Linked DNA regions of Homo sapiens: region 2 is linked to region 1. Evidence: fine-mapped expression QTL. A gene starts in region 1. The other region holds a variant in brackets. All regions are shown on one strand. Distances are from middle to middle. Region 1 holds the start of SYT7 (synaptotagmin 7). Region 2 holds the start of LOC105369329 (a long non-coding RNA gene).

What was found. PIP is the estimated chance that this variant, and not a neighbour inherited with it, causes the effect.
Region 2: its variant is the best candidate, but not a certain one, in a credible set for the expression of SYT7 in cerebellum (GTEx, PIP 0.53).

What each region holds. Positions count from the first base shown.
Region 1 is chr11:61,578,605-61,582,850 of GRCh38, forward strand. SYT7 (synaptotagmin 7) reads right to left here and starts at 2,472. Exons shown (of 13, transcript NM_001365809.2): 1 at 2,186-2,472. The coding sequence starts at 2,216. LOC105369331 (a long non-coding RNA gene) reads right to left here. Exons shown (of 5, transcript XR_950166.3): 4 at 3,992-4,041; 5 at 2,802-3,389. RefSeq lists silencers at 2,493-2,582, 2,603-2,752, 2,763-2,922.
Region 2 is chr11:61,494,410-61,498,655 of GRCh38, forward strand. LOC105369329 (a long non-coding RNA gene) reads left to right here and starts at 2,183. Exons shown (of 3, transcript NR_188527.1): 1 at 2,183-2,270. RefSeq lists an enhancer at 1-554. The variant A/G (reference allele first, on the strand shown) is at 1,792.

The DNA.
Region 1 (4,246 bases):
GCTGGGGGGAAGGGAAATCTGACCTGGAACTATAGAGCCTACAAAGGTGGGCAGGGATGCCAGAGGGCAGAGGCCAGAATGAGATCTTTGACTCCTCAAGGACCCCAGATGACTAGGCTCAAAGGCAGACTGTGCCCTCTCCAGCCTATGTCTGACCCCACCCAGCCCAATGCCCACACCGGAGAGGAGTCAGCCTCAGGCCAGCCCCTTTCCCAGTCACAGCTGCCCTACCACAGGCACTGGTGGGTCCCGCAGCTGCAACTGGGGTGGGCAAGACAGGTCCCAACTGCAGCCAGAGAGGCCCATTCAAGGAGGGGGTGAGGGAAGAGTTGAGGGCTGCCAGCACACCAGGGATGGTACTGGACTCCAGACCCTTTGCCTAGAAGATGCCAAGCACGTCAAGCTGGCCTCCGTGGTGAGGGCAGAGGTGCTTGGAGGAGTGGTGATGTCATGGTGCCCAGGCATGGGAGGAAAGAGGAGGGAGGGAGAGGGGAGAGGGCACAGCCCCAGGCCAGTGGCCTAACAGGCCAGAGGGGAGGCTGCCAGCCTGGTGGGCGAGGGGATGGATAGTGTCCTTATTTCTTCCCTACCTTCCATCCTCATACCCCAGAGCTGGCTTCTGAACTAAGCTACTGGCTTCTAAGAAGGTGAGCAGAGCAAGAGAATACTCCTGCCACGGGCCATGGGCTGGAAGCCGGCGGCCTCTTCGACGAAGATGCCAGGGTAGGTGACCTAGGTCCAGACAGATGAGGGGAGGGCTCTCCACAGGCAATGCCCCTTCAGCCCTCACCTAGAGGACATTCAGAGAAGGGCGCAAGGTTCCAGAGAAGGAGACTGAATCTCTCACCCTCATATCCAAGTGCTGAGTGAGGGCAGTGCCTGGCGCCCAGTGGGTCGTCCTCAATATCGACTGGACTGAAAAGAATCGATGGGGGGTGGGAGCCGATTCCTCAGGAGGCAGGGACAGGCTGAGGCTGCCCCTAGAGGGGAAAGAGCAAATGTGGGGCTAGGGCAACAGTGGGCAAAGCCAGCACCCACTGGACTGCCTTCAGGAGCCTCAGGGCTGCAGGCTCCTTCTGTGCAGGGTCTTAGAGCCCTTCCTTCCCTACAGCACCGCCGCCCCCAGGAGGCTGGCAGGAGGGAGCCTGGAGGCTCTTCGTTTGGGAGCACATCCTGGGCTGGGGAGTCGTGCTTTTAGCATCAGAGAGAAGCCCAGAAACAGACCCTGATGCCAGAACTGGCAGACTGGGGGTGCTGGGACTGGGTGGAGCACCCCAGGTGGGAGCGGGGATGGAGCCTGGGCAGGAGCTGCAGGGGACCTGCCTACAGGTGGGCACTGGGTGAGGAGGCATCAGGAGCCAAGGAGGAAATGGCAGAGCAATTTCCGAGGAAGACGGGAAGATTCTTCGGCTTTGGCTTAGAGGATACCAAGCAGACAGTGGGCTCCCAGGCCACTCCCCTGGCGGGCGAAGCAGAAGGCAAAGGAGTTCGGCCCTCCCCCACCCCAGGACGGGAGAGAGTTTGGGGTTGTTTGCTTCCCCCTCCCCAAACCTAGGAGAACATTCTCTTGGCACCCCCATTCTCATGAGCCCCTGCTCTCTTTCCCTTCAGGCACCCCCGTCTCACCCATCAACGCCCCTGCAGTTCCCCACCCCCCAGAACCTCCCTGCCCAGCTGCCGCACCAGATTCCCACTTGCCCCCTGGCACCCTCTCAATTCACAGTTGGCACTGCGATGCCACTCCGCTCCCCTGTGCCCGCAACCTTGGCCAAGAGCTGCCGGGATCCTCGCCCTGGGGTCCGCCAGCGCTGGCACCCCCGGGGCACCGGTGCTGGGGAGCCTCGGGTGCCTCTGAGGGCACTGCCCGGCTCCCACAGGGGCAGCGGCTCCTCGCTCCGCCACACACGTTGTCCTTGGGCTGTTGAGGGGTGGGGGAGAGGTCCTTGTGGGGACACTGCGAAGCCGGTCCCAGACATCCAGCCTGGCAGTGTCCAGACTGCGGGGGACCGGGGTCCGAGCCGCTGCCGCTCGATCCCGCGCCCCCGGGGCTGGGATGACCCCTGGGGGAGCCCGTGCGGCTCCGGGCGGACAACAGCCCCAGGCTGGGGCTCCGAGACGGCGTCCGGCGCTGCCGCTGTCCTGCCCGCCGGTGCGGGGCGCCCCAGCCCGCCGGGGCCGCGCTTACCTGGGCTGGCCGCCTCCGGGTCCCGGTACATGGTCCCCTCGTCGCCGGTTCCCTCCGGGCTCCTCAGAGCCGCCCGCGGCCGCGCGCTGCTCCGCCGCCGCCGCTGGGCATGGGGCCGGGCGACCCCCGGGGGCGGGTCCGAGGGCGGGGGCCGAGCGGGCTGCACCTAGCCGCGGAGCCGGGGAGCGGGGGCCGCCCGCCAGCCCTCCCGCCCGCCCGCGGAGCACGCTGCCGCCGCCGCCGAACAGCGCCGAGCCGCCTCCCTCCGGCCTGCGCGCCGCGTGTGCGCGCCGGAGCGTGTGTGTGTGTACGAGGCCGTGTGTATGTGTGTGTGTGAGCGCGTGTGTGAGCGCGCCCGGGGCACCGCCGGCGCCGCCCGCCAGCCGCCGAACGCCGCGGCCACAGCCACCGCCTGCGCCCGCTGCCGGCCGCGCGCCGCACTGCACCCGCGCCCGCCGCCGCCCGAAGCCGCCCCGAGGGCACGGCCGCCGCCCCGCGCCCCGCCCGCCTCGCAGTCCCCGCGGGGAGGGCCGCCGAGCCCCACGGCCGGGCTCGTCCGGCCAGGGGATCCGGCTCCGCTGCGCGACCCACCCCCAGCCCGTGCTCCCCCGATGGCCGCGGCCTGGCACCGGGCAGGGCCGCAGAGCCGGCCACCTCCTCCGAGGTGCCCTTTGGCTCCGATCCAAAAGGCGTGGAGATCCACTCCGGGTTTTCCGCTTGCTGGCGGCTCGAGGGCGTCAGCTCCGGACTCAACACCGCGGCGGTCCGGGGCAGACGGACTGGTGTGTGCAAAAACCAGGAGTGGAATTTTTGGCAGCGCTGAGCCTGGGTCCGCCAGTCCGGTCTTTCTGCAAGCTCGCACACAGGTGGAGCCGAAAGGGCTAAGATCCCTGCCCTCGGTAGGAGGTTTGGCCTAGTGACCCTCCTCACCTAACCCAGCCCCACGAAAGAAGAAAATAGACTTTTCAGCCTCTGGCTATCCCTCTATAGCAGCAGCTCCTCCTCTGATCCTCCCCTCTATTCCTTGACCCTAGCACTTCGGAGGGTAGGAAGGAAATCCCTCCTTCTCCTTCCAACCCTGGACCTCTCTTGGTCCCCTCTGCCTCTCTGCCGGCTCAGCACAGTCTAAATCAGGTGAACACTCATTTCTCTACAGAATTTGGATGATTTGATTCTGGGGCAGGGAGGAGAAGAGACCTGTCTCCTAAGGATAAGAAAAACCCAGAAATGAACCATTAGTGGTATGGTAGGCACAGAGACCTCCCTGCACACACCTACACACGTAATCACCTACATACACACACACACACACACACACAGACATGATGCCCCCCACACACACACCCACACAGACATGCTGCCCACACAAAGAGACACATACACTGACGCTCCCCACAATACAGGTGCTGCCCCTACCCTTCACTGATGGGTCAGGTAAGAGGGCAAAATCCCTGGGTCTGTGGCAGCATCCTGCCCTCCCCTGTGCTGAGAATGCAGTTTGCAGGTGAGCCAGGCTTCCTAGAGTCAAGGATTATTATTTCCACCCTGAGAAATCCACTTTTGCTGGCTTTATACTGCACTACTCATGCCCAGCCACACCTCCACCTGCCCACAGTGTGGAAGGCAGCCAGGAACAACCCTCTATCTCAAGTCTCCCCGACACACACACAAACAGACCCCATCCCCTTGAAATCACATGGAGGCTATCCCCAACAACCACCACACACACACATACACACATACACATTCACCTCCACCTACAGCTTTTCCGGTTGAGAAAAAGATAAGGAAGTTCCCCCAGCAAACCTCCATGAAGACTGTTCCAGTGGAGAGCAGATTTCCTGGGAATGAATGTTCTACATAAAAATGGAAGGAAAAAAGGCATCGTAGGTTAAGGCCACAATTCCTCAGTGGCCAGAAATCTCAGCCCTCACCCTCTGGGGAAGGGCCATCCTATTCCATACACCTCACAGCTGTCTTCCCCCCACTCACCCAAGTACAGCCAAGAACCCAGGAGTTATCTACACTCTGCTTTGGGACCTGGCAAACCCCAGAAAGCTA
Region 2 (4,246 bases), 84 kb before region 1:
TTGAAAGGACATCTTGCTGTGTGGCTTCCCTCTTCTGCTCTGTGATGTCAGGGGACAGTGGGAGAGTTCCGGTCTCTCAGCATGAGAGTTTAGAAGACATGTGAGGCAGTTAGCCCCTAGGGGATGGCCCAGAGGAGCAGCAGGCCAGGGGCGCTGACCCCATGGCTTCATTTTCAGTGGCCTCATCCCCTTGCTTCCAGAGAGCATCAGCCCCAGAGCTCTTTCCCCTCCAGGCCCAGGCAGTCGGCAGAGTGTACCTGTCACAGGCCTGAGCCCTGGAATCCGACTGCCTGGGTTCAGATTCCAGCTCTCCACAACCCAAGGCAGCTCCCTGCCATCAGTCGGTCACTTAACCCTTCTGTGACCTCCAGTTGTCACTTAACCACACTGAGCTTCAGCTAATAGCAGCAGCTGCCTTCTGGATAAAATCCAACATGCACAGAGTGCACACAAATAGAAGCTGCCCTGATGCTGGAGCAGAGGAAACGGAGGCCAAGACAGAGGTGGAGACTTGGTCAAGGCCACACTGCAGGCCGGGCGCGGTGGCTCATGCCTGTAATCTCAGCACTTTGGGAGGCCGAGGTGGGTGGATCACGAGGTCAGGAGTTCAAGACCAGCCTGGTCAACATGGTGAAACCCTGTCTTTACTAAAAATACAAAAATTAGCCGGGCGTGGTGGTGGGCACCTGTAGTCCCAGCTACTCAGGAGGCTGAGGCAGAGAATTGCTTGCACCCGGGAGGCAGAGGTTGCAGCGAGCCAAGATCGCGCTACTGCACTCCAGCCTGGGCGACAGAGTGAAACTCCACCACGCCCTCCGCCTCAGCACCCCCCCAAAAAAGCCCATGCTGCAGATTGTCACAGGGTCTGGTCTCTGTCTCCTGCTTGGCCCTGGGTGGGCCCCCTCAAGACCCTTGCCTGAAGCCGAGCGAGGTGGCTTACGCCTATAATCCCAGCACTTTGGGAGGCTGAGGCTGGAGGATCACTTGAGCTCAGGAGTTCAAGACCAGCCTGGGAAACAAAGTGAGACCATCTTTACACAAAATTAAAGAATTAGCTGAGCATGTTGGCACATGCCGGTAGTCCCAGCTACTCGGGAGGCTGAAGTGGGAAGAGAGCTTGAGGCCAGGAAGTTGAGGCTGTAGTGAGACATGTTCACACCACTGTACTCTAGCCTGGGTGACATACTGAGACCCTGTCTCAACAAAACAAAACAAAACCCTTCCCTGAGAGCAGCCCTCCTCTCTATCAAGGGTGGGTGATCACCTGCACAGCCTGACCTGGAAGGCCTTGGCTGCCCTTCCAGTGGTTTACTCCCACTTAAGCCCCCGTCCCTAAGTCCAGCTTCTGCCAGGCCCTCCTGGCAGCTGCCTGCTTCTCCCTTCACCTGGTAACCAGGCTTTGGGTGTTCACAGAGTCAGTCCTTCTGGCAGGTGACATTGCAGTTGCTGCCAGAAGTTTCCTGCCCCCTCCTCAACGAATATTTTTAAAAACTTGCTGAGGTGTACAGGGATGATGATTAACCTTTATTAAGCCCCCACAGCCTGCGGGTGCTGAGAATATCCGTGGGCCTTCACCTTTCCAGCAAGAACACAGAGGGGCCTCCCTCTGGGGGAAGTTTAGGGACACAGGTGGGTGCGGCGCTGACGGCTTTGGTGTGGGGGTGTGGAGCCTAGAGGGCTGACGGGACAGCAGGTGGGGTGGCTGCTGGGCGCCGTGAGATCAGACACGGCTTGTGACGCGTGTGGACGCGTGTGAGGTTGCTGTTTGTTCGTCATGGCCTGGTGGCGGCT[A/G]ATGTTGACAGGTGCCATCTGGCCTGAGTCACGTGGTAGCAGGCAGCACCACCGGCTCGTTGGCTTGACAGCTGTCCAGCTGGGAACACAGGGCTCCTGGGGGTGGGGGCGGTTAGAGGCATCTGTCTTTGGGAACTGGAGGCCTGGGGGTGGTGGGAGGCCCTGCGTGGGGAGGCTGAGGACGGGGGATATGATACACCCAGACAGATGGAGTGTGTGAGGCTCTGAATCGGTTCCCCAGTCTCCTCTCTGACCATCTGGAGGGCCACCCATTCCTGAGGAACTGTTCCCCGAACAAGCAAGTATGCAAGGGCAGAGGATGAATCAGACCCAGCAGGTCCCACTGAGGGCCCCCGTTGAAGATCAGAGGGGTCTGGCAGGGCCTGTGGGACATCCCGCCATGCCTCGCTTCCTCCCCACACTGCTGCAGACAGGCTCTGCCCAGGACCTTTGTGATGGGCAGGTCAACCTGACCAGAGGTGAGGCGACCTGCCCAAAGCCATGCGGTGCCGGCCCCGTGAGCGCGCTCGCACTCTCTTCTGAATCCAAGCCTCTCCCCACCCCATCGCTTCCCTGGGGGTCTCGGATGAGCAGGAATGGGGCCTGGGAACTTCCTGGGAGAGCCAGGCAGTGATAGGGATGGGCTGTGATTTCTTTTGCTAAAGAGGTGAGTGCACTTGTGTGAGAGTGTGTGTGTGTGTTTGAGTGCTAGAGTGTGTGAATGTGACTGTGTGTGTGAGAGCATTAGTGTAAGTGCATGAGTGTGAATTTGGAACTGTGAGTGTATGTGCCTGAGAGTGTGAGTATATGTGTGTGAATGTGAGTGTGAGAGTTGTATGTATGAGTGTATATGTAAGTGCGGTGTGTAAGTGTATATGTGTATGTGTATGTGTATGTGTGGGTGTGTGTTGGAGTGTGAGTATATGTGAAAATGTATGTGTGCGAAGATGATTTGTGTGTATTTGTGTGTATGTATCTGTGTGTGTGGGTGTGTGTGGGTATATGAGTGTGGGTATGCGTGTGTCTATGTGTGTAAGTGTATATGTGTGGGTATGTGTTAAGTGTGTGGGATATGAGTGTATGAGTGTGTGATTATGAGTGTGTGAGAGTGTATGCGTGTGTATTTTGTGAATGTGTTTGTGGGTGTGAGTATACGTTAGTGTGAGTATATAAGTGTGTATGAGTGTGAATATGAGACAGTATATGTGTGTATATATGTGTGAGTGTATGTGTGTGTGTGGGTGTGAGTGTGTTAGAGTGTGCGTATATGAATGTGTGTGAATATGAGTGTGAGTGTATATAGGTGAGTGTGAGTGTGAGTGTATGTGTGTGGGAGTGGGAGTGTATGAGTGTGTGTATGTGTGTGAAGATGATTGTGTGTATTTGTGTATGTGTGTCTGCGTGTGTGGGTATATGAGTGTGTTAGTGTGTGTATGTGAGTGTGTGTGTAGATGTGTGGGTGTGTGTTAGAGCGTGTGGGTATGAGTGTATGTGTGTATGTGTGTGTGTAGATGTGTGTGAGTATATCTGGGTGTAAATGTGTGTGTGTTAGAGTGAGTGTATGAGTGTGTATGAGTGTGAATATGAGTGTGTGTGAGTGTATATATGTGTGAGTGTATGTGTGTGGGTGTGAGTGTATGAGTGTGAGAGTGTGATTCAGGTTGGAGAGCCTGTGTGTGTGTGTCTTTAGAGTCCCCAGTTAAAGGGCCAGGGCAGGAAGGTGTGTGTGTCGCTCACCTGGCCTAAGCTTGGGTGAGATGCTGAAGGCGCTGTGCTCAGAAAAGGCTATATGAGCCCCTGGGCCAAGCAGCCTCCTATGGAGCCTGATGACAAGGTTGTGGTCCCTACGGTCAGACGGCCTTGGCGCAGAGCCATGCTCTCCTGGTGGGCTCTGGCACTGGGGGCGGTGGGCTGGCATTGAAGAACATGGGCAAAGCTTCTCCTGAGCACAGAACAGCATTTGACAGTGTGGGGCTTCTGGGAGGACAGTGCAAGCAGGGGCAGAGGGAGAATGATCACGCGACTCCCTGAGTGGTCACAGGCTGATGAGGTCTGACGATGGAGGCTGTCAGTCAGAGTTCATCACAAGCAACAAAAACCACAGCTGGCTAATTTAAGCAGAAAAGGAATTTCTTAAAAGGACTTGGTCACTCACAGAATCTTCAGGTGGACCTGAGAATAAAACTTAGAGCCCGGCCGGTCGTGGTGGCTCACGCCTGTACTCCCAGCACTTTGGAAGGCCGAGGCCGGCGGATCACCTGAGATCAGGACTCCGAGCCAGCCTGACCAACATGGAGAAACCCCGTCTCTACTAAAAATACAAAAATTAGCCGGGTCCGTGGTAGCAGGCGCCTGTAATCCCAGCTACTCAGGAGGCTGAGGCAGGAGAATCGCTTGAACCCAGGAGGTGGAGGTTGAGGTGAGCCGAGATGGCGCCATTGCACTCCAGCCTGGG